Linked DNA regions of Homo sapiens. The protein of the gene in region 2 purifies or fractionates together with the protein of the main gene of each other region. This does not show direct contact. Each region holds a gene or a part of one and is shown on either strand. Other genes may lie near its edges.

Region 1 (2,346 bases), on a different chromosome or scaffold from region 2:
TCACTCTCTGCCATTGTTTAGCAGTCTGACCTTAGACAGCTCACTTCACCACAACTGCAGGCCTCCGTTCCCTTATATGTATAAATGAGGAGGTTGTCTAGGGTCCTTTCCAGCTGCAAACCTCTGTGTTTTGGGGAGTTCTGTTAGCAACATTCTTGGACTTGCTCTCTACGAGAAAAGCTAGAAGTCGATTATTAAAATGGAGTCCACAGGAAGCCTGCAGGGCTTTAAGACAGCCTTCTAAAGAGTTTAGAAACACTCACCAGCCTGCAGATGACTTACTCCCACTACTTATTACAAAGTATCATGGCAAGTAAGAAAGAAATGGTCAGCCACTGGGAGAGCAGGCTGAGGTTGCAAGGAAGTGGCAGGTGCTATCGTTGGGATCTTGGGGGAGCATTGTAGAAAGGTCAGCTTTGGAACCAGGCACTGAAAAACGGGTGAAATTTCAACAGGAGAGGCAGTGCACATGGGTTGTGATTTGAGCAGCAGTGAGTAGTGAATGGGGTTGGAGCAAGAGGCCTGTGAGCCCAGTCATCACATGGAAAAGGGAGGTGAGGGCCAGAGTGCAGAGAACCCCTCTCACTTTCCTGTGGGTCTCTCCTCTTCTTTTTTTTTTTTTTTTTTTTTGAATTGGAGTCTTGCTCTGTCGCCCAGGCTGGAGTGCAGTGGCGTGATGTTGGCTCACTGTAAGCTCCGCCTCCCGGGTTCACACCATTCTCCTGCCTCAGCCTCCCGAGTAGCTGGGACTACAGGCTGCCACCGTGCCCTGCTAATTTTTGTATTTTTTTTTAGACGGGGTTTCACCTTGTTAGCCAGGATGGTCTCGATCTCCTGACCTCGTGATCCACCCACCTCGGCCTCCCAAAGTGCTGGGATTACAGGCATAAGCCACCGTACCCGGCCTTTCTCCTCTTCTTTAAACTGCATTTAGGTTGTCCTCATCTATAAGATGAAGGAATAAGATTAGATGGCCTCTTTATATGGCTTATCTACTTCTAATAAACTTTGGTTCCATATTCCAGCCACCACCCATAAAGACTCTTACTTTTTCCTCCTCAATCCATCAGCATCAGCCAGCATTCTCCCTCTCAGTTCATCCTGGTCATTACCTCACTAATCTGTACCTTGACTCTTATTCTACCTGGGACCTCCCCTCACTAACCATACTTGATTTATTTCCTTAAGAGCGGATATCCTGTGTATTCTTAGCTTACAGTGGCTGAGCTTTTGGGAGGTTTAACAAATTGTTTTTCAATAGACTCTCAGTCCTAAATGATTTTATTGCAGCTGTATTATTCTTTTTGAGGGGAGTAGAGAATGTAATCCTAGTTGTATGCCATATTTTTTGTATTGTTCAAGTTGCATTTTGTTGGGCCTGTAATATTGAAGAAAATGTCACTTGTATGCAGAATAGGAGGGAGATTCCTTATGCTGTAGAGGAACCATTTTCCTAGGATAGTACAATTCCTTAGAGTCATCTCTAAGGGTGAGCAGCAAAGCTAGAATCCCTCTCTTGGCTTTGACCTTGAAGGAGTCAGTTTTCCCAAAGACTAGTTCCCATGGAAAGAAGATGGTCTCCTTATCACAGCAGCAAGAGGAGGCAGTATGAGCAGAGTGCCTCACTGTTGTTGACCTCTAGGGACAAGTGAGCCGGCAGTATTTCAGACAAGCTGGGAAAGAGGCTGTCTGTGAGTCCTGGGAGCGAGTGAGCACTGGCAGGCTCAGACATAGGTGCTGGTTAGCAGGACTGCTTTTCTGTTTCTTGTGTCGGCTTTGTTTATTTCCTCTCTATTTTCCCCCTGGACTTAGTAAAGTCTTTCCGAAAATACCAAAGGTGAACCAGGGGAAGAGTTTTTATTTTCCATGTTTGGACAGAACTTTAAAGAGGAAATGATGTACCCCCCTGGGAGCCAGTGAGGTGGCAGCGATGGTGATTAAGGAGTGAATATCTCAAGGAGGTGGACGAATTCGGGGATCACTAGCTCAGCTGCCCCTCTCCACCTGGAGCATCTCCTTCCAGTGCTACCCTCAGAACATCTGGGCTTTGCTCTAGTGAGGGAGAGACTAGCAATGAAGGTGTCTTGAGATCAGCACTGTAATTCCACCAGGACGCCACCGGAGTCCGGTGTTAAGCTTCTACTATGGCAACAGAATGAGAGCGTGGATGGGTTGAAATGCCATTTCAACAAGGAAATAGTAGAATTAGAAGAAGCATAAGCACTAAAAGGAACATTTTGTAGCAGAAATGTTAAAAATCTAAAGGAGGCAAGTGAATCAACAATGACTCTTCTATTCTGGGCAAGTCCAGCCCATTTATGTAAGGTGGTTATTCTGCATCTCTGT
Region 2 (4,023 bases):
GAAAGTCTAGAAGGTTCTGTTTCCTCAACTGCGAAGTGGGAATAACTAAATTCACCTTGCTAGGACCTTATAAGGATTAAATAATTCAAGAGAAACTACCAGGGAAGTGCAAGGCACTTAGTAGGAACTCAGCACATGCGATTATTCCCGCCTCCCCACGCGGTCCCCCAGGGAAGAAGCGAGGCGCTTGAGCCAGACTGGGCTGGAACAGTGCGGTAGGGGCCCGTCCCCCGCGGAGCTGCCTCCCCATCCACCATCCACCCAGCTCAGCCCGGCCGCTCACGCACGCCCATTTGCTGCCCTCGTTCCATCCCTATTAGGCGCATTAGCCAGCCCGGCGGCTCTGGTTACAGACGTCTGAATGACAAAGTGCCTCCATTACCGGCGCGGCCCGCCAGCCGACCCGCCGGGACGCGCTCTGGTTTCAGCCCTCTCTCTCTCACCGCGGCCCAGGAAGAAACTCGGACCGCGCACAGCCATCCCAGACCGAGCAGCCGCGCGCCGAGGCGGAGGCGGGAGCCGCAGGGGCTGCAGACGGCAGGTTCCTGTCGGGGTACACCTTCCCAAGCGCCCAGGTCCTCCACGCCCAGCTCCCCTCCTTCCTTGGGTCTTCGCGCGGGGACCCTCGCTCTTGCCCAGACCCGGAGCCCAAGTCGTTGCCCCTCTGGGATCCGGTCCCTCCTCCCCGCTCTCCTGGTCTACGCTCGCCCACCCGCGTCTGAGCAGCGTCTCTAACCAGCGGCGTTAGTCAGCAGACGTGCCCGCGGTCGCTCCCAAATCCCCGGACGCAGCCACAGGTCCTGACAGCTCCAGGGAACTGGGGCTGAGCTTTCGGGCTGGGGCCCGCACCCGGACAGAATCTCTGCCCACCTCACCCGCAGGCTCTACCGCCGACGGACTCTGGGGACAGTGTCAACCCCCCCCGCCCTGCTGGGAAACGCAGCCGTGACCCCGAGCTGGGACAGCGGCTGCCCCCTGAAAAGGTGGGGGAGTACCGAGCTGGGAATCAGGTCGGGGAGTCTAGCCACGACTCTGGCCCAACTTGCTGTGAGATCTTGGCCAAGTCGTTTAAACTCTCAGAGCCTCAGTCTCCGTATCTGTAAAGCCGGAATTTGGGGCGCAGTGCTCTGATGAAAGATGCTGGCGGGGAGAGTGAAGACGCCTCCTCCGTTGCCAGACCTTCCAGGGCATTCGGTTCATGGCCATAAAGCAGGCCACATCTGACAATCTCGTCGGACCACCCGGAGGACCCGCCGACCTTTGCCGAGTCGGTGGCCCGGGATACCGCGCTACAGAATCCGAGGCGTCCGGGCGCCCCCGTCTCGTTAGGTGCCCAGCGGCTTGCACCGAGAGCCAGGAGAGGCTCAGACCGGATCCCGACCCTTCGAGGCGCGGGAGCCCACGGAGCGCGGTGGGCGCGGCGCTCGGGTCGCGCAGCTAGGTGGGGAGCGGCGCGCAGCCCCAGACTCGCAGGCAGGCAGCGGCGGACTGCACTTGCCTCGCCCCGCAGCGCCCCCTGCCTGCCGCCTCCCGCCTGCGTAGCCAGAGCTGCGCGCGGCCAGGAAGGGTCCCCGCCTAGTGCGCCCCGGCGCTCTGCACCCCGAGACGTAGCCACCGCCAGCCCGGGTAGGGGCACACCCGCTCCGTCCCTCGCGATCCGCTGCGCTGCTTCAAGCCGTGAGAACACGCGCGTCGGAGGAGCCCGCCGGCCGTGGGGGAACCCCGGGAGCGGGTTCGCCCCGGCGAAGTGGGCACTCCCCTCCCAGCCTTAGATCCGCAGCCCCAATTCCGGGACTGGGAGAGGCCGCGAGCAGGAGCGCGGGGACAGGCGCTGGAAATGTCCAAGCCTCTGCTCTCTCTTCTCGTCTCACTGTCCCTCAGCGGGCAGGCGGGACCCCGACCACTTCAGGGTCCGCGCCCCGCTCTGTCTCCTTTCCTTCTGCTTCCATCTCTCTGCCGCCCTCGCCGTCGCCCCTCTTCTGCCCTCCCTAACCCACTTCTCAACCTCTCTCCCGCTCCCCAACCTCTCCCTCCGACGCCCCTCCCCCCCATTGTCTGGCCGGTCCCCATTGTCCTTGCCGGGTCCCCTCTGCCTCCAGTCCCTCCGACCTCCTCCATTGTTCCATCCCGTCGTCCCGGGCTCCCCGCCCCAGCCCAGCTCGCCCCTCTCATCTCTAGTCCCCGTCCAGTTCCCCCTCCTTCTCTCGCCTTGGTTCTGTCCCACGACTCTCCAGAGACCGAGATGCTGAGGGGAAAGTCCCTTCGGGATCCCGGCATTCGAGTGTCCTCTTCCGAAGAACCTGGGCATCGGAGAGCCCCATGCCCCCTCTTGAAAGACCCCTCCCAGCTCCCCCACCGCCCCCTGCGGTACCTGAGGACCGGCATCCGTGCTCCGGTCTTGCCCTCATCTCCACCCTGGAGAGTCGCCTCTGCGCTCCGGGAACCCTAGACCCTCCTTCGTGGTCCCGGCATCAGAGGTCCTTTCCCACCACCCACCCTCAGTATCTGGGACCCCAATGCTCTGTTCTGTTTCCTTGGTGGCGGCGCCCGGCTCTTCTCGGAGTTCTGATCCCGGGAAAGGGAGCGGGCCCCCTCCGGCTAACACTCACCCCCAGAAGCAGCAACAGCAGCAGGCGCGGCCCGTCCATGGCGCGGCCGGTGGCACCTGCCCCCATCGCCCGCCTCCCGCGGCAGCGCTCGACTTCCAGCTCGGTCCGCTTTGCGGACTGATGGGGCTGCGCTGCGCTGCGCTCCAGCGCCCCCCCTGCCCGCCGGAGCTGGCCGCGGCTCGGCTCGCTCTGGCTGCGGGCGGGAGAGGCTGGGTGAAGCCAGTGCTGCGGCCCCGCCTCCGCCCCGCCCAGCCCGCCCACCCCCGGAACCGCGCCCGCCCGCCCTGCCGCCTCGGGGTGGGAAGCAGAGGCAAAGGGAGGGCGTGCGGTTCCCCGCACCCCGCTGCGCTTCTCCCTGCCTTGTCCCTTAGAGCCTCTCACCCATCCCGCCCTGGTACCCAGTTCCCGGCCCGCGCTACTGCGCGTCCGTCCCGGATGCTGTGGGCCCGGGGACCAGGGCGTCCCCACTGCGGTTCCTGTTCCTCTCCGGCTGCGGCCCGCCACAGGGTTCACTCTCTTACCCATCTTCCTCCGCCTCTGGCTTCACCTTCTCCCTGGAGCCTTGCTCCCTAACTGCCCCCTATCAGTAAGAATGCCCGCTTGCCCTCCCTGCCCTTCATCTCAGTCCATCACCCCACCTCCACCCCATCCCCACCCCTCCCCTTCCCAGTGCAGGAGATCCCTGGGCAGAGGCCTAGGGGGAGGGGAGGGGCGCAGGCGCCCTTACCTCGGCCATCGACATTCAAGGTGGAGTCCATTCCGACATCATTTGATTCTCAAATGAGGGGTTTGAAGGGGTCACAGGTGTGCACACAGTGCACAGGAATACACACTCTCAAGCTCACTTGTATGTGTGATCGTGCACTTACGTGTGCCCACACCGTTCTCATGCACTCCTGCCGACCTGACTGTCCCACACATGCACCTCTCCAGGCATGCACACGGGCACATATGTGATCCGGACATTCAAACGCGCATATGTACACATTCACACATGCATGTATACAGTCGTGTCTGCATAAGCCCTCACATGTATACAGTCACACAAACACACACATTCATGAGTGCACACACACACTGACACCCATCAACAAACAAACAGATGCATCTTCAACAATATAGACTTCACCAGACTGTGAGTGTCTCCATGGGCTTATGAGCTCTGCAGGCAGGGATTATGGTTTCTTCTCTGAATTCCTGGTATACAGTAGGGTTCAAGAAAGTTTTGTAGAAGGGAATAAATAGAAAAGTGGTGAAATGGACTCATATCTGTGTACCCATCCATGTGCTAGGACCAAATTCATCTTGCCCTAGAAACCTTGCCAAGTCCAAATAATATGCCTCCCAACCCCAAAAGCATGCCACCCACCCCCATGCTTACCCCTTTCCTGTTCCCTCCATTTCTTCGTTCCCA
Region 3 (3,500 bases), on a different chromosome or scaffold from region 2:
ATTTTAAAATTGGAGTTCAGGAGATTGAGAAATGAAATCATTTATCTCATGGCCATGTAGCCTGGCATTTTTAGGGACATGACTGAGCTACATAATCCAGGTCTCCTCTCACACACATCCCTTACCACTTTTGGTCCCTTTACCGGCATTGTGACTGGAGAGCCAGGAGACTAGCTAGCTTACTGTTTGCCAGGGACCTCTTAAGGTGTAGGTTGTTTATACAATAGAGTTGATGCCATCACTGAGTTGTTAATAGGAGGGTGCTCCTTGTTTTCACTTAGACTCTTTCAGAACTTATGATTTTCACTATATGTAGCATATTACCTGGAAACTCTTGTGGGGTATGTAAGTAAGAACCATGGAAGTCCTTAGACCCACGAATATCACTGATACACATGTGGGAAACCAATCCCAGCCCCAAGACAACATTTCCTCGACCCGACATCCTAAAATCACAATATTAAAGTTTCAGTTTACATGCATCAAATTCTAGAATAGAAAATACACAAAATGCATCCAGCACAAATGAAATATTTTGGAACACCAACTGTTCTTTTGGTTTGTGCCAAGCAACAGCCAATAGCAATGAAATAGATTCTAGCACAACAAAATATTTTTGGAGAGTTCTTAGAATTGTCAAAACAGAATGAACTTGCAGTAACCTTGTATGTAAAAATTAATTTTGTGTGTGTGTTTAGTTCTAAATTAAAAATATCTAAACATGTTTCTTTAATCCTTCTCTGGCTCTTACAACACAAATAACAGTTGACTTTGATTTGTGCAGTCTTCATTCATAATAGATTGAGAATGAGCCTGAGACTATCAACCAGAAGGCTTGTTTCTATCTTTTTCATTTTGAGGATTCTCCAAAAGGAAGAGAGGAGACTTTTACCTGAATGTGTGTGCACGCACACATTTATATCAGAGCAGAGTGGTGCTGAAAAGGACGGCCCAGGTGGTAATATGTTATCCGAACTTCAAAATAATCAATCTATTTCAGTACCATAATACTCAGAAACACAGATGAGTACATATCTCCACCATTTGGTTTGGGTAATTGTAGTAGTCACACTGAACCTGGGCTCAGCTCTGAATTTTAGGAAGTCTGAACAGAGCAAGTTGCCAACTGGGAACAAAGGGAAAACGGGGATGGTGCCTCCTACTTACAAACCACATGCAGGAAGAGGACAGCTGTGTCTGAGCCAAGGTTGTTCTCTGCATAGGCTGTCACCTGGAAGATCCCCGCACTCTTATACACGTGCTTGATGCCGTCCTCGATGGGGCTGAAGTTTGCGTAGGACACAGCAATCCCATCCCCAAAGTCAAGCTGGATGTTTGTCCTTTGTAGATCACCCTGCAAGATGGCATAGCAGACGGGTCAATTTACTTGGTCCAGCCAGACTCCTATCTGATGCTTCCTCCTGTTGCTTCAGCATCAACCTCTGATGACCCATAGTCTTTCCCAAAGGGCTGAAACACCTGCAACACAATGATCACACTCCTATCTGATCCGCAGGGTACTACGGGCAGGCACTATGGACCTATTGTCCTCATCGCCCAAGCTCGGGGCAAGCTGAGTTGGTATGACACTGACAATAGTGGGCAAGGTAGACCCTCTGTAAAGTTCTGAAGGGAAGCCAAGGGTTTCACTGACTCCCTCACATACATAGTTTAATTCTCCTTTTGTGTCATAATAATAATTGCAATCATAGTAGCAGCTAATAGTTACCGAGGTTTTTTTTATTAGTGCCAAGCAAGCAGTCTCCTCATAATTCCATATTATAGAAAGTATTTTTGTCCCCATTTGTCTGGGGACAAAAATAAGTAGTTAGACCAAAGTTTCATAGTGAGTACAGGAAGACCAGGTTCCAGACCCAGTCTGGTTTCAATAATAATGCCCTCAGTTGCCATGCTATAGTTGTAATTGCTCCTATTTTGAGTATTTGCTATGTTACCAGAATTATGCTACTCACTTAATACATATTATATAACACCATCTGCAAAACAACAGCAGGGATAGGATGGCGATTCCCATTCTACAGATGAATACTGCATACCACCCCAAATTATACCCTTGTTCTCTTATCCTTGGACTTCCCTAAATCTACTTAAGCCTCCTCTTCCCTGAAGCCTTTTCAGATTGTCCCAGTTCACAGATATCTCTGTCTCTTGGAAAGAGCTCTCTGTGTACTACCTGGTAACATGATGCCAATGATTCAGGTGAATGCATCTCACCACCCCAAGCCAACACTTAGCTTCTTAAGGGTCTATGCTGAACCTCATTCTTCTTGGTCCCCACCCCCCCACCCCACCATTATATTGGGCCAACACTTTGGATCAACACAATGCACTTGACCACAAAACAAAGATCCTATATGAAGAATAGCATTGCTCTGTTCATATATGAAGATGAGTGATAGAATAAAGAGAGAAATACATCATTTTGGAATTATGAGCCAATCCTTCTGCCCAGTGAATGTGCACTGATCACAGTTTCACTTTCCATTTCTTCCCCCATGGCAGCCCAGATGTGAATGAAATATTGATAGGTACTCTCTTGCCCCCCACACAATGTCAACTATCCTTGAGTTTATGAATATAAATTAAAGTGGAAATGAACTGGAGGCAATTCAAACGGATAAGATCGTGGCTCTTCACACCCATTCAAGAGAAGGTTTTTATAGCTGTGGTCCTGGAAACTCCCTAGTGGAAATGTGATAATGACCTCCTCTGAATCTTAAAGTCCTTTAATTCCAGCACCTGCTGTGAGTGAAGGCTGAGAAATCTGTCAACCCAGGATAAGGAACCTTCACCACCCTGTCCAGTGTGCTCCTGACTTTTAAAGGTTTCTGAAGTGCTCATACTTGTGAAAAAAAATGACTCCTGGCCTGTTTTGCCTTCTTTCCAAGATCTCAAGAGCACAGAGCAATTTGCATATAAATTTAGAGGGCTGTGTCAATCAAGCAAGCCTTCCTGCTCTACCACTCAGCAAAGAGTGCCTAAAATGCCCTAGTATAGGAAGCAATTCAACAGCTTATAAAAGAAGCAGACAACAGAGATATTCCCATACTGGAATCAATGTATGTAGTCTGATTTTACTGCCCAGATTTCAGAAGACACTAAAAAAGTGAAAGAATACAGCATCTAGCTGATAGAAAAGCAACTAATACAACATTCTTTATAAAGATAACTTTAAAGGATTTCAATAATCTTCCCCATCCTCATGCTCTTACTTTTAAGGCCTTGTGAAAGCTTTGTGGGCTTTTCTAATCAGTGGGATTAAGGGTCAGAATAAAGCAAAAGAGGCTCCTAAAAGCAACAGATAAAATTCACATTTCCTTCCTCTGGCCAAGTTTACAGTTTATGGTCTTATGGTAATAAATATTCCTCAGCAAAGCAGACTTTAATGGAGACCCTGAAGAATATATCCAGATCTGCATGCTCCAGAGGCAAGTGGGCTCCCACTGCGGACTGGGTCTTTATTGTGGGATAAAGGGAGG
Region 4 (3,500 bases), on a different chromosome or scaffold from region 2:
GGAAGGGCACAGCCCCCCAGAGTGACCCAGAGGCTTTAAGTGCCCACCAGGTACACATGGACCCCTGCTGCCCCACTCACCCCTGTGCAGGGTGCCCTGGGAATGTGGGCAGATGTGCCTTGGACACACAGTGGGCCTGTAATCTGCTCAGCCAGGCCCAGCACACACACAGTCATCCAGGCCAGCTCCTCAGGGCAGTAGCCCCCTTAACGGGTAGTCCTGCAGCCCCTGCTTTGATGGGGGTTTCACTGGCATGCACATAGTCCCCAAAGAGACCCCCCAGCAGTGTCACACAGACACAGTGACCCAATGTCATCCAACAGACCCAAGTGCACACAGGCACACACACACTTGGTGCTCTTGCCCCTGGAAGCGCCCCCACTCACAGTTCCTGTAAGGAGAGGCCCTGCACAGTTTTCCAGGAGAGAGACTCCAGAGCGTTGAAGGAGAGATTCCTGCGGGCGTGGAGACACAGCAAGACAGACCCCTTGAGTGACCCGACCTCACTCTGACCAGAATGAGGGAGGGGAGGAGCCAAGAAAGAAGTTGACATCTGGCTCCCCCGCCCCGGCCTAGGCAACCAGAACCAGCCCTGGAAGGCAGTGTGTGTAGATGGTGGGGTGGGGGGTGGGGGGACTTTCTGAGTCCCACTCCTTTCCCTGGGACAACAAGGGTTAACCCCACTTAACCCCCTCTCCAGACCCCAGGGAGGGGGATCTGAGGGAACAGCCGCTCCTCCCTCCCCCACTGCTTTGGCCCCAGCTGGCAAAGTGCTGAGGCCACAGCTGGGGGAAGGGGTCCATCTGTGCTCCCCTCCCTACAGAGCCCAGGACGGGGCCAGAGGAAGAGGGGGAGGGTTGAGGCTGCCACTCCCTTGCCCCTACCTGACCACAAGGAACTCCACGCACTTCCTCAGCTCCCCTCCTCCTCCTCCTTCCGGGCCCTCCTCAGGGACTAAAAGGTCAGGCAGGAAAGGACCCACACCCCCACACCCCCAGCCCCCTCGTTGTATGGATGGAAAAAGTGAGCCCAGCAGGGGCCCGGCTCCAGGCCACACAGGAAAATGATGTAGGAGCCCCAGTGCCCTGTGCCCTGTGCCAGGCTGCCGCTGCTGGGACCCTCTGCCTCTGAGGGGCCTATCCTGACCCCTCTTCTTTCCTAGCCAACCTAGAATTTGTGGTGGCTGGGTGGGAGAAGTACCACCACATAGGGACCAAAGACACAACCCACTCTAGAGCCAGCTAGAGCAGGTGTAAGTTCTATCCTGCCACTTACAGCTGTGTGACCTCAGTCCAGAAACTCAACCTCTCTGATTCTCAGAATTCTCATCTATGAAATGGGGACAAGAACACTCTCTCTCTCACCAGGTTGATTGTGAAGATTCATTGACATAAGTATCGTGAAGTGTCATTGAGCACGTTTTTAACTGAAGCCCCGGTGCATAGACGGTGATATGACATCACTTTATTTTGCTTTGTTAAATTGCTGGACACAGCAGAGTTTAGAGGACCCTGCATAACTCCATGAGTGTCAGCCCCACCATCCTTCCCATCTCTCTGCCTGCTCATATTGGGGGACAGGGGAGCTGAACTCCTGCCCTCAGAAGGCCAGGGAGGGGCTGCCAGGGACTCTGATAGTCTCTCCTGCCCATCCCATGACCCTCTCTGTCCTACAGCAGGGGTCCCCAATTCCCAGGCCACAGATGGGTAATAGTGCCACTATTCTCCAGCCTGAGCAACAGAGGGAGACCCTGACTCTTAAAAAATAAATTAAAGAAAAAGAGAAGCACAGCAAGGAAGAGGGGCTATAAACAGGGCAAATATGTGGTCTCTTAGGAACCGGGCCACACAGCAGGAGGTGAGCAGCGGTGAGTGAGCATTACCGCCTGAGCTCCGCCTCCTGTCATATCAATGGCAGCATTAGATTCTGTGAACTACTGCGCACGTGAGGGATCTAGGTTGTGTGCTCCTTTTGAGAATCTAACTAATGCCTCATAATCTGAGGTGGAACAGTTTCGTCCTGAAATCATCCTCTCCTCCCGCACCATCCGTGGTAAAATTGTCTTCCATGAAACCAGTCTCTGGTGCCAAAAAAGTTGGGGTCCACTGCTCTACAGGAGGGATAGTTATGACTCCCAGGAATGAGGAGGGTGACAAGTGGCAGACCTAACACCCCAGCTCCCAGGATGTCCTAGGGGCCAAGTCAATGAGTCCCTGGGAAATGGAGTCCCAGCCAGAACCCAGGAGTCCTGCTCCTGCCGCTTGCTCCCTTTGCACTGGTGTGTATCTGAGCCCTGGGAAGAAAGATAGGGCAGGCACCTATGAGAAGTGTCCTTGCAGCATGGACCATGGAAGTGAGATGGCAAGGAGGACCTCTAGCTGTCAGGGGCGAGAGCATGCCATCCCTGAGGGAGATGGGAGGAAGCCCCAGGAGAATGGTGAGGTGACTTCCCTGACCAGGCTTGGGCCCTCCTCGCAATCATTCCCCGGGGACAGCCAAGCCCATTAGCAGCCCAAGTCTGGGTGTCCTCCCCAACTCCCACTGCCCAGCACTGGCCACACTCACAGGCGACTGAGCCGAGGAGTGAAATGGAAGGCATCTGGCGCCACGAAACGGAGACCACTCTTCACGATGGTGCTGGGGAGGGGTGCAGGAGGATCAGTCCCCAGGTCTCAGCTACTCTGGGCCCCTGGCCCTCCCTGCCCATCCCAGCCTCCCAGTCCCCTGTGCTGAACCCCTACCCCTCCTCAGGCCCCTCATTGTTTCCTCAACTACTCTAGACCCCTCAAAGCCCTGAGCTTCCTGACTTCTCCCAGTCCCTCAGTGCTCAGCCTCTCAGGTCCTCCCAGGCCCTCGGATGCTTGAGCCCTCCCTGACCTTCTGGTCTCCCCCAGGCCCATGCTGAGCTCCACACCCACAGTCCCCGTTTCCCTCACAGGTTTCTCAGCTCCCCCAGGCCCCTCAGATCACGGAGCTCCAGATGCTGCAGATGCTGCTGGTTCTCGATGTAGCTGTGGGGAGAGCGGATGGGAGTCACAGGGCTCAGGCCCACACTTGAGTTCCCATGCCCACCCACTTACTCCCTCACAATACACATGCACATGCCACATGCACACGCATATGCACCTGTTCAGACCTGCATACACACTTACACAGGCGTGCACACACAAATGCATACATGTGCACAGAGACGCACCTCAAGTCACACATGCACATGTGTGTGCATGAACACACAAGCGCACATACATATGGATCCCCACACCCTCACACATATGCACATTCTCACATACCTCTTGCACACATGCACACACCTAGGTATGCACATGCGCACACACAGAGGCATAAGCATCTGCACAGATGACGCCATGCACCTGCACATGTGCCTGCAGGAACACGCTCACCCATGGACACACAGAAACAAAGCTCACGTCCATCTCTCACGTGCACACACACAAGTCCATTCTCAGATTGGTGTTCTCCTTTTATATCAGGCATCCCTG
Region 5 (3,500 bases), on a different chromosome or scaffold from region 2:
GGCAATGGTGAATTCTTGAACAGAAAAGGAAACACTAGTGCTCATGGCTGACTGATTCAGAACCACAGAGTCTTTCAAGGAGTAGCATGCATGAGTGTCACAGCCTCCAGGTTCAAGATGAAATCAGTCAGGCTGGTGAGGTCAAGTGGCTCAACCAAAATCCCAGACCCTGATACTGTCAGAGAGTGGGTATCCAAAATCCTAGATCCCTAACCAGCGCTCCTTTCAGTTATACCACGTTCCTATACTTTGTCGCCTTTCCCACTGTGTTAACCTTACCAAGCCAGGTTCAGTTGAAACAATGATGGTCTGCCCACAGGTCGTCCACCAGAAAAAAGTACACAAGTCAAGATTTCTTTACAATCCATTAAAGGGGGTTTACAGCCAAATGATTGTTTGTATATATATGTCTGTGATTTGGGAACAGAGGAGAAGGGGATAAGAAACACCACCAGAAACAGAAAGAGGCTGAAGAGTTGCAAAGAGAAAGGCCAAACCCATGTACCTTAGTCCATGTGGGCTGCTAAAATAAAATATCTTAGACTGGGTAATTTATAACAACAGAAATGTATTGCTCACAGTTTTAGAGGCTGAGAAGTCTAAGATCAAGGTTCTGGGAGGTTTCATATCTGGTGAGGGCCCATTCCTCATAAATGGCACCTTCTATGTGTGTCCTCACATGGCAGGAAGGACAAACAAGCTCTCTGGAGTCTCTTTTATAAGGGCACCAATCCCATTTTGCCTTTATGTCCTAATCAACTCCCACCTCTCAACACCACTACCCTGGTGACTGAGTTTCAACACATGAATTTTGGCAGAATACAAACATTCAAGCCATAGCACCAGACGCACACAAGAAATAACCAAGGAGCAATATCATCTATAACATTCTTTGAGTTTGGGTGGTAGCAGCAGGGTTTTGAAGTAAAATTGGGAGTAAACTAAAAAGAGTGTTCTGGTTTGGGGTTTTGTTTTGTTCTTTGGAGAAAGACACTTGTTTTGTTTTGTTTTGTTTCACCATAGTTGTGTGTTTTTTTGTCACACCTTACCAGGGAATCTAGGGGCTATGATGTCAAGCTCTCTTGCCCAGCACCCTCCACCCCTACACATGCATCACACAGAGGAATAAGCCAAGCCCAGAAAAGAGAGGTCACTTGCCACACAGTGAGCAAGAGTCAGACAATTCAGGCATAGGCCCCTCTGCCACCTCACAGCAAGGGACTCTGGGGTACATGAAGTAGAAACAACTCTTGTTACAAAGATTAGCGTTGAGAAGATCCTTTCTTTTTAAATTGCACTATATTGCAGAGGTTGAAACCAAAATTCCGATACCTTTCAATTTTGTTTACATTGTTCGTTTATGTTGAGAAGATATCAAAGAATCAGAAGATAGACACAGTGGGTCTCTGAGTGACCAGGTCGGCTAACAGGGTCAATGCACTAATGCTCAAGTACTTCTCTCAAAGAAGACAGCCCAACCAGATCCTGGCCAAGGGACATCCAGAATGATAAAAACAAAATTAAAATAGTGGTTTAGGGAAGCACATTCTCAATTATTCAGAAAATTTTACAACTCAAGATAATTAAGTTGAACAAATTACACATGGCAGAGTTTTATACACAGATTTATGTATTGATGAAAACACGGTACACACATACAACATTATGGTGTGTGTCTATGTGTGTGTGTGTAGACAATTCTTGGGATATGAAGATTACAGGAAAGGATGGGATGCTAAGTAGCAATTTGTCCTTATTTGACATAAAAAAAGGAACTCTAAATGGTGTGTGATTATTAACAGTTTTATTTTGTACAAGAAGATGCCATATTACCAAAGGCAACCAAATCATTTATCTCTTCACAATATATATCAGACTGCTCAGGAGCTGAACAGGAGAAGAGGATAGGGGTGGGGAAGACAGAGGATGAAGCACCAGCCCACCTCCTTCCCACTGCATGAAGTTTAATCTGTGAACATGAATTCAAATCTCTAGACCTCTCCTAGAATTGCCTTGGCTCTCGAGGTCAAATTTGGGCACCAAGGTTGGAGTAGACAGAGCCCTAAATGAGACATTAGATAGGATCCTACCCCTAAATTATGCTCTGCTTTACCAAGGGGCCCAGGCAAACTAATAAACCTCACAGCCCCTCAGAGGCTGCCAAAACCTCCCCACCTTCTTCAGAGTGAGGCTGTAAACCTAAATAAGCAGATGTCTGTAAAGGGCCCTTCACGTCCCATGGGAGCAAATCTTCATGCAACCAAAAATATGTCTCAGAAGGGTGCTTTTCCTGGAAAGGTCTCAGAGCAGAACACGAACAACACATAAAATGGTAGCTGGATGAATTTTGGATGGGAGCCAATAATCCTGAAGTTTGCTCACTGGCTCAGCCACTGAGACTAGTCATCAATCTTGAGGCATTGAGAAGTCAGGGGGAAGAAAGAAGTCGGGGAATAATAAGTACTCTCTGGCCACAGGTCTTTCAGGGCAGCTAACACAGACCTCATCGAAAGGGCTGCGGGTTTCTCCACTTACATAAGCACCCCCGACTGTGGCAAAGACTCCAGGGGCAACAGGTTTCATTTCACTCTGTCTGCTCTGCCCCTCTTCTAATGCCAATCTGCAAAGATGGCCCAGCAGGCCCAAGGTTAGCATACCTCATTGCTGCCAACTCATGAAGGCTTTTCTCTGAAGCTCAAATTTTTTGTGTATGAATTGCCTAAAGAAGAGGAACACTTCAAATTTAACACACACACACACACACACACTCACACACAGTAAGCTAAACAGAAAATATATTTCTTCCTATATGAAGATAAGATGATTGCTTTCAGATCAGTAGCTCATGCACTTTTCAATTACTTGGTCTCTCACAGAGATGAGTTTGCACAGACTTAGCCATGTTAAACTTGTCTCCCCATTTATGGTGGTTCTATTAGGTTGGTGCAAAAGTAATGGCAAAAACCACAGTTACTTTCGCACCAACCTAATAAAATGATGAGCCAGAATTAGGCGGTCTGTTTGAGAACACAGAACGGAGGGGAGGCACCCTAAAGCAAAGGCCCCCAGCATTCATTTGGATGCTAGGAGAAGGAGCTTCTAGTTCCCACAATGCTGTTAATGAGTCGGCCTTCGGCAACTTTCTTCACTGCCCTTGATTTTTGCAAAGAAGAGGCTGAAGCAGATCATTTCTAAAGCCCTTTCTCTTTCTGAGGTTCCGATTCTAAGTGACCCATCTGAACACTGACCCTGTGACCTTGGACTCATCAGACCAGTACTAACATGCCACTAGCCTTGTTAGCAGCTCACATTTAAAAAGACATGGTTTGAGGGAGTTCAGAGCAGACACTGAAAACATTTCCACATAACACTCTGACACCAAAGGTCTTCAGATTCACACACTGCCAGACCCCGAGCACCTTGTATCATGCCCTTCCTTCACAGCTGATGTATACACTTCCTTATCTCCGTGACCGAGGCTTCAGGGAACTTCAGAGCCT
Region 6 (3,500 bases), on a different chromosome or scaffold from region 2:
CACAGCAGGGGTGCACTTCTTACAGGACTGTGGACTTTCTCAGTTTTATACACTCAGGAACGCATCACAGACACAGAAAGCACAGTCCATGGTTGACATATGAAAAATGTACGACATGAGAAGATTTGGGCCTGATTTTTCAGGAACAGTACTGCAAGTACCTAGTTTTTGCCAAGAGTAGACTCAGCCATATGCCCTAGATCAGCCTTCTGGCTTGAACTCAGTACCTTGGATTGACTTCTGTGTTCCTTACCTTCCCCCACAGACATATTTCTTCACAATGAGCACTCCTGCTACGACTGTGACCAGCATCAATCCCACGATGGCCAGGATAATTGGAACAGAATTTGACTTGGAATTCTTGAGAAATTAAAACACAAACACAAAAGTTTTAGGCATGCATATCCTAGGACTGAGGTCAAGGCAGCCACTCATTCCCCTCATCTCTTTGTGAATGATCTGCAGTCCTGATGCGCTTAATGATGGCTCTTTTCCAACCCCCCAAGATGAACCATCTCAGTGTTACCAGGAGAATATTATAGCTGGCAGAGAGTCATCTTAGCTCCAACTGCCTTGAACCTTCAAATTCTGTGGTTTAAATGTCAAAGTTACACTGGAAGCCTGGGCAACTGCCTAGATCAAGTATGATTGCTTCACACTACCACTGTTCACAAGTCTTGGGGCTTAAGGGTGGAGTAGGAAAGGGAGACTACTGTAACAGTAGGCTGAATGACTCTAGAACAGGGCCATTATCTGGGAAGAAGCTGTGTCAGAAGAACCAGGCAGGCCATTATATGACACCAAGATTTATTTGTTTACTTAATTTTTTATATATTATTATAAATAAGCCTTATCATATCACTGTTTGCATGTGACCTACCTGCTTCTGGGTGGGAAATAGGGAGTGTGTGTTTTCAATGTATCCCAGAGGAGGCAGAGCTGGATTCTAGGACAAGCTGTGTCCCTGTGGGTGGGAGTCCTGTGCAATCACACACACGAACACTCTGAGGAGAGTCACCAGGAGCCCAGGACAAGGGTGCACAGAAGGAGGAACTCGCCCCCTTACCAATACACACACTCACACACTCCTCTCCCATCATCTCCTTAATCCCACCCCTTGTCAGTCCCTCATCCCTTAGAACAGCAGAGAGGAGGGACTGCAGGTGATCCAGCTTGACCTCTCCTATTACGAATTGGGAAACGGGCCTGCTGTTGAGCATCTGAAGTCATGCTGCTGGTCTAGTGTTTCATTATCAAGAGGTTTCCTCTTTACACATCTCCAGTTCCACAGGTAGTTCAGTGCTACAGATTTGGATGCAGCCTCATAACCTTTTTTTTTTTTTTTTTTTTTTAAATTGAGACAGGATCTCACTCTGTCACCCAGGCTGGAGTGCAGTGATATGATCATGGCTCACTGCAGCCTTGACCTCCCAGGCTCAGGTGATTCTCTCCCTTCAGCCTCCTGAGTAGCTGGGACTACAGGCACACACCACCACATCCGGCTAATTTTTGTATTTTTTTTGTAAAGATGGAGTTTCTCCATGTTGCCCAGGCTGCTCTCCAATTCATAGCCTCAACTGATCTCCCCACCTCAGCCTCCCAAAGTGCTGGGACTATACAGGAGTAAGCCACCATGCCCGACAGGTAACTTGCTTCATTTAAATCAAAACCAGCCCATTACCATAGCTCAATTTTTCACTTTGAACATACTTAACATGACTTGGTCAGAGATCCACCCTACCTATTGCCCAGTGCTCTTCTCTTCCACACATGCACAATTCCAGGTCATGGCCCTTCACAGACAACCTTTTTTTTTTGGTACGGAGTCTTGCTCTGTTGCCCAGGTTGGAGTGTAGCAGCACGATCTCGGCTCACTGCAACCTCCACCTCCCAGGTTCACATGATTCTCCTACCTCAGCCTCCCGAGTAACTGGGACTACAGGCGTAAACCACCACACCCAGCTAATTTTTGTAATTTTAATTTTTGTATTTTTAGCAGAGACAGGGTTTCACCATGTTGGACAGCCTGGTCTTGAACTCCTGACCTCAGTGATCTGCCTGCCTTGGACTTCCAAAGTGCTGGGATTACAGGTGTGAGCCACTGTACCCAGCCCACAGACAACCTTTTTGTTTTCCTAAATGACTCTCAGCCTCAGAAATTTCCACAACTGTATGATTTTAAGAATTTTACAACTTTACAGAATATCATCCCCCAACCCTCAATAAGAAAAGAGCTTTCAGTAGGGTGAGCTTATCACTGGGTTACATGACCCATCCTTCATGCTAACAGCTTCCTGTATAAGGGAAGCCTGAGAGAAGTAGTTTGACCACTTTTTATCAGTAACAAAACTCTTGATGCTTTAACTTTGATTTTTCTTAGCAGAACACAAAATCCCATTTGTACCTGAAAACTAGACCTATTTTAACATACCTGTTTTTCCGGACTCAAAAAGTTGCTTGTGCATTTCTTTTTCAAGTCTTTTACTTCTCGAACTGGATTTACCCCACCCTGGCATTTGTCCCCTGGAATTTTCCGGTACCTACCAGGCAAAGAAGATTTGGTAACAGAAGATAAGGATGTATTCCTGGGTACCTGCCTATTTCTTGGAAACAAGATTTGAAAAGCTGCCGAAAAGCTTCCCATCCTTACGTCATGTTTCAGGCCTGGGGGGAATGTCCACAGGGATGTTTTGGGGGATATTTTGTGTAGTTTCAGGCCTTAAGCAAACTAAGCATCTCTGTCCCCTGCTGTCAGAAACATGCCTGTTCTTTCTACCTAAGAGACTGTGCCAAAGAAATCTGACCCCAAAAAAGCTCATTAACAAGTGGTACAAAATGGGAGAGGGGAAGTTATCAGGGGAGCGAGGTAATGAGGCCCGTCTAGAGCAGCACTGTCCAATATGGTGGCTACTTAAAATTGATTAAAACGAAAATTTCAGTTCCTCGGTTACACTAGTGTCCACAGCTATGTGTGGCTAGTGACTATCATATTGGGCACAGCAAATTACAGAACACTTCCATCACCAAAGAAAGTCCTATCAGACAGAGCTCTCCCTGGCTGTGCCTAAACTGTGCCAGACGAGCGATGGACGTTCATGGCGGATGGGACGCTTCTGTCATTCTGCCTGTGGGTCCCTCGCCTCTCCTCCCTTCCTGGGGGTGGTTGGGCGGGAGGCAGGGGTGCAGGATCTGGCCGAGCTTGTTCTCCTGCTCTGCCTCGTGGTGTTGGTGGGGTTGAGTCCTCTGACACCAAGCACTCATGGCTCACCTCCTGTAGTTGACCCTTGAAGGAGGCCTTCATATCCTGCCCCTCCCCAACCCCGCCAAAAATAGTGCTCTAAAGTAGGGCTTGGATCTCAGTGTGGAGAGAAGCAGCTTTCACTCTGAACAAGAACACCTCATCCATCGTGACAAGGGAGAAAAGGCCACCTCACCCATTTGTTGTTAGGTGTTCTTCTCTTCCGTACAGACAAAACTCCAGGTCGTGGCCCTTCAGTTCT
Region 7 (3,500 bases), on a different chromosome or scaffold from region 2:
CTTAAATGAAGTGCCCACTAAGAAGTTCCACTTAACACATGAATTTCTGCCATATTAATTTCATTGTCTCTATCTGAACCACCCTTTATTCTACATATGATAGGCAGCACTGAAATATCCTAACCCCCTAAGCTCCAGGTGCCCTGTGGGAGAGCAACTGGACTATAGCAGGGCTGGGCTCTGTCTTCCTGGTCATAGGCTCACTCTTTCCCCCAAATCTTCCTCTGGAGCTTTGCAGCCAAGGTGCTAAAAGGAATAGGTAGGAGACCTCTTCTATCTAATCCTTAAAAGCATAATGTTGAACATTCATTCAACAGCTGATGCCCTATAACCCCTGCCTGGATTTCTTCCTATTAGGCTATAAGAAGTAGCAAGATCTTTACATAATTCAGAGTGGTTTCATTGCCTTCCTACCCTCTCTAATGGCCCCTCCATTTATTTGACTAAAGCATCACACAGTGGCACTAGCATTATACCAAGAGTATGAGAAATACAGTGCTTTATGGCTCTAACATTACTGCCTTCAGTATCAAGGCTGCCTGGAGAAAGGATGGCAGCCTCAGGGCTTCCTTATGTCCTCCACCACAAGAGCTCCTTGATGAAGGTCATCTTTTTCCCCTATCCTGTTCTTCCCCTCCCCGCTCCTAATGGTACGTGGGTACCCAGGCTGGTTCTTGGGCTAGGTAGTGGGGACCAAGTTCATTACCTCCCTATCAGTTCTAGCATAGTAAACTACGGTACCAGTGTTAGTGGGAAGAGCTGGGTTTTCCTAGTATACCCACTGCATCCTACTCCTACCTGGTCAACCCGCTGCTTCCAGGTATGGGACCTGCTAAGTGTGGAATTACCTGATAAGGGAGAGGGAAATACAAGGAGGGCCTCTGGTGTTCCTGGCCTCAGCCAGCTGCCCACAAGCCATAAACCAATAAAACAAGAATACTGAGTCAGTTTTTTATCTGGGTTCTCTTCATTCCCACTGCACTTGGTGCTGCTTTGGCTGACTGGGAACACCCCATAACTACAGAGTCTGACAGGAAGACTGGAGACTGTCCACTTCTAGCTCGGAACTTACTGTGTAAATAAACTTTCAGAACTGCTACCATGAAGTGAAAATGCCACATTTTGCTTTATAATTTCTACCCATGTTGGGAAAAACTGGCTTTTTCCCAGCCCTTTCCAGGGCATAAAACTCAACCCCTTCGATAGCAAGTCCCATCAGCCTATTATTTTTTTAAAGAAAACTTGCACTTGTTTTTCTTTTTACAGTTACTTCCTTCCTGCCCCAAAATTATAAACTCTAAGTGTAAAAAAAAGTCTTAACAACAGCTTCTTGCTTGTAAAAATATGTATTATACATCTGTATTTTTAAATTCTGCTCCTGAAAAATGACTGTCCCATTCTCCACTCACTGCATTTGGGGCCTTTCCCATTGGTCTGCATGTCTTTTATCATTGCAGGCCAGTGGACAGAGGGAGAAGGGAGAACAGGGGTCGCCAACACTTGTGTTGCTTTCTGACTGATCCTGAACAAGAAAGAGTAACACTGAGGCGCTCGCTCCCATGCACAACTCTCCAAAACACTTATCCTCCTGCAAGAGTGGGCTTTCCAGGGTCTTTACTGGGAAGCAGTTAAGCCCCCTCCTCACCCCTTCCTTTTTTCTTTCTTTACTCCTTTGGCTTCAAAGGATTTTGGAAAAGAAACAATATGCTTTACACTCATTTTCAATTTCTAAATTTGCAGGGGATACTGAAAAATACGGCAGGTGGCCTAAGGCTGCTGTAAAGTTGAGGGGAGAGGAAATCTTAAGATTACAAGATAAAAAACGAATCCCCTAAACAAAAAGAACAATAGAACTGGTCTTCCATTTTGCCACCTTTCCTGTTCATGACAGCTACTAACCTGGAGACAGTAACATTTCATTAACCAAAGAAAGTGGGTCACCTGACCTCTGAAGAGCTGAGTACTCAGGCCACTCCAATCACCCTACAAGATGCCAAGGAGGTCCCAGGAAGTCCAGCTCCTTAAACTGACGCTAGTCAATAAACCTGGGCAAGTGAGGCAAGAGAAATGAGGAAGAATCCATCTGTGAGGTGATAGGCAAGGATGAAAGACAAAGAAGGAAAAGAGTATCAAAGGCAGAAAGGAGATCATTTAGTTGGGTCTGAAAGGAAAAGTCTTTGCTATCCGACATGTACTGCTAGTACCTGTAAGCATTTTAGGTCCCAGAATGGAAAAAAAAATCAGCTATTGGTAATATAATAATGTCCTTTCCCTGGAGTCAGTTTTTTTAAAAAGTTAACTCTTAGTTTTTACTTGTTTAATTCTAAAAGAGAAGGGAGCTGAGGCCATTCCCTGTAGGAGTAAAGATAAAAGGATAGGAAAAGATTCAAAGCTCTAATAGAGTCACAGCTTTCCCAGGTATAAAACCTAAAATTAAGAAGTACAATAAGCAGAGGTGGAAAATGATCTAGTTCCTGATAGCTACCCACAGAGCAAGTGATTTATAAATTTGAAATCCAAACTACTTTCTTAATATCACTTTGGTCTCCATTTTTCCCAGGACAGGAAATATGTCCCCCCCTAACTTTCTTGCTTCAAAAATTAAAATCCAGCATCCCAAGATCATTCTACAAGTAATTTTGCACAGACATCTCCTCACCCCAGTGCCTGTCTGGAGCTCACCCAAGGTCACCAAACAACTTGGTTGTGAACCAACTGCCTTAACCTTCTGGGGGAGGGGGATTAGCTAGACTAGGAGACCAGAAGTGAATGGGAAAGGGTGAGGACTTCACAATGTTGGCCTGTCAGAGCTTGATTAGAAGCCAAGACAGTGGCAGCAAAGGAAGACTTGGCCCAGGAAAAACCTGTGGGTTGTGCTAATTTCTGTCCAGAAAATAGGGTGGACAGAAGCTTGTGGGGTACATGGAGGAATTGGGACCTGGTTATGTTGTTATTCTCGGACTGTGAATTTTGGTGATGTAAAACAGAATATTCTGTAAACCTAATGTCTGTATAAATAATGAGCGTTAACACAGTAAAATATTCAATAAGAAGTCAAACTACTAGGGTTACTTTTTTTTCCTCAATCAGAGTCTCATTTTATCCATTTGGAGTAGAGTGGCTAAAACAATACTGAGGCTTCTGGAGGCTTTCGGTAAGCAAGGCATCTGGTTGGACAGTGGGTGAGCACCAGGCTTTAAATCTGCATACATGAGCCTTAAGGAAATGGACTAGAGGCTGAGCCAAACCAAAGCAGAATGGCCTTAGAGCAACAGCAGGTTCCTAGGTGGTTTTTATATTGTATTTGAAAACAGCCCTGGGCAGGGATATCATAATTTCAAGGCCAAACTAAACATCATCTTCCCTACAATCTGCATCCCCCAAAGGAATTGCAAGATGAGGGGGAACAGACTGTTTCTGCATAATATACATAGTTTCATTTACGAACATTGGAATACAGACTTTCTATACACACATTACCTATATAATAAAAATGTACA

The links.
Region 1: the proteins of NGFR (region 2) and NTF3 purify together in Homo sapiens (affinity purification with western blotting, with the first as the bait; one study listed by BioGRID). This does not show direct contact.
Region 3: the proteins of NGFR (region 2) and SORCS3 purify together in Homo sapiens (affinity purification with western blotting; one study listed by BioGRID). This does not show direct contact.
Region 4: the proteins of NGFR (region 2) and NTRK1 purify together in Homo sapiens (affinity purification with western blotting; 2 studies listed by BioGRID). This does not show direct contact.
Region 5: the proteins of NGFR (region 2) and NTRK2 purify together in Homo sapiens (affinity purification with western blotting; one study listed by BioGRID). This does not show direct contact.
Region 6: the proteins of NGFR (region 2) and SORT1 purify together in Homo sapiens (affinity purification with western blotting, with the first as the bait; 2 studies listed by BioGRID). This does not show direct contact.
Region 7: the proteins of NGFR (region 2) and BACE1 purify together in Homo sapiens (affinity purification with western blotting; one study listed by BioGRID). This does not show direct contact.

The regions. Positions count from the first base shown.
Region 1 is NC_000012.12:5,491,108-5,493,453, forward strand, and holds part of NTF3 (neurotrophin-3 isoform 1 preproprotein), read left to right. Parts: intron 1-2,346. UniProt on the Homo sapiens protein: Seems to promote the survival of visceral and proprioceptive sensory neurons.
Region 2 is NC_000017.11:49,494,070-49,498,092, reverse strand, and holds the start of NGFR (tumor necrosis factor receptor superfamily member 16 precursor), read right to left. Parts: upstream 2,801-4,023; 5' UTR 2,676-2,800; coding exon 2,610-2,675; intron 1-2,609. UniProt on the Homo sapiens protein: Low affinity receptor which can bind to NGF, BDNF, NTF3, and NTF4. Forms a heterodimeric receptor with SORCS2 that binds the precursor forms of NGF, BDNF and NTF3 with high affinity, and has much lower affinity for mature NGF and BDNF.
Region 3 is NC_000010.11:105,214,790-105,218,289, reverse strand, and holds part of SORCS3 (VPS10 domain-containing receptor SorCS3 precursor), read right to left. Parts: intron 1,355-3,500; coding exon 1,168-1,354; intron 1-1,167. UniProt on the Homo sapiens protein: Plays an important role in modulating synaptic transmission and plasticity in the hippocampus, probably by affecting the trafficking and localization ofAMPA-type glutamate receptors in the postsynaptic density.
Region 4 is NC_000001.11:156,863,865-156,867,364, reverse strand, and holds part of NTRK1 (high affinity nerve growth factor receptor isoform 2 precursor), read right to left. Parts: intron 3,012-3,500; coding exon 2,937-3,011; intron 2,638-2,936; coding exon 2,566-2,637; intron 456-2,565; coding exon 387-455; intron 1-386. UniProt on the Homo sapiens protein: Receptor tyrosine kinase involved in the development and the maturation of the central and peripheral nervous systems through regulation of proliferation, differentiation and survival of sympathetic and nervous neurons.
Region 5 is NC_000009.12:84,676,229-84,679,728, reverse strand, and holds part of NTRK2 (BDNF/NT-3 growth factors receptor isoform a precursor), read right to left. Parts: intron 1-3,500. UniProt on the Homo sapiens protein: Receptor tyrosine kinase involved in the development and the maturation of the central and the peripheral nervous systems through regulation of neuron survival, proliferation, migration, differentiation, and synapse formation and plasticity.
Region 6 is NC_000001.11:109,314,419-109,317,918, forward strand, and holds part of SORT1 (sortilin isoform 1 preproprotein), read right to left. Parts: coding exon 3,435-3,500; intron 2,541-3,434; coding exon 2,432-2,540; intron 361-2,431; coding exon 254-360; intron 1-253.
Region 7 is NC_000011.10:117,285,257-117,288,756, reverse strand, and holds the end of BACE1 (beta-secretase 1 isoform A preproprotein), read left to right. Parts: 3' UTR 1-3,059; downstream 3,060-3,500. UniProt on the Homo sapiens protein: Responsible for the proteolytic processing of the amyloid precursor protein (APP).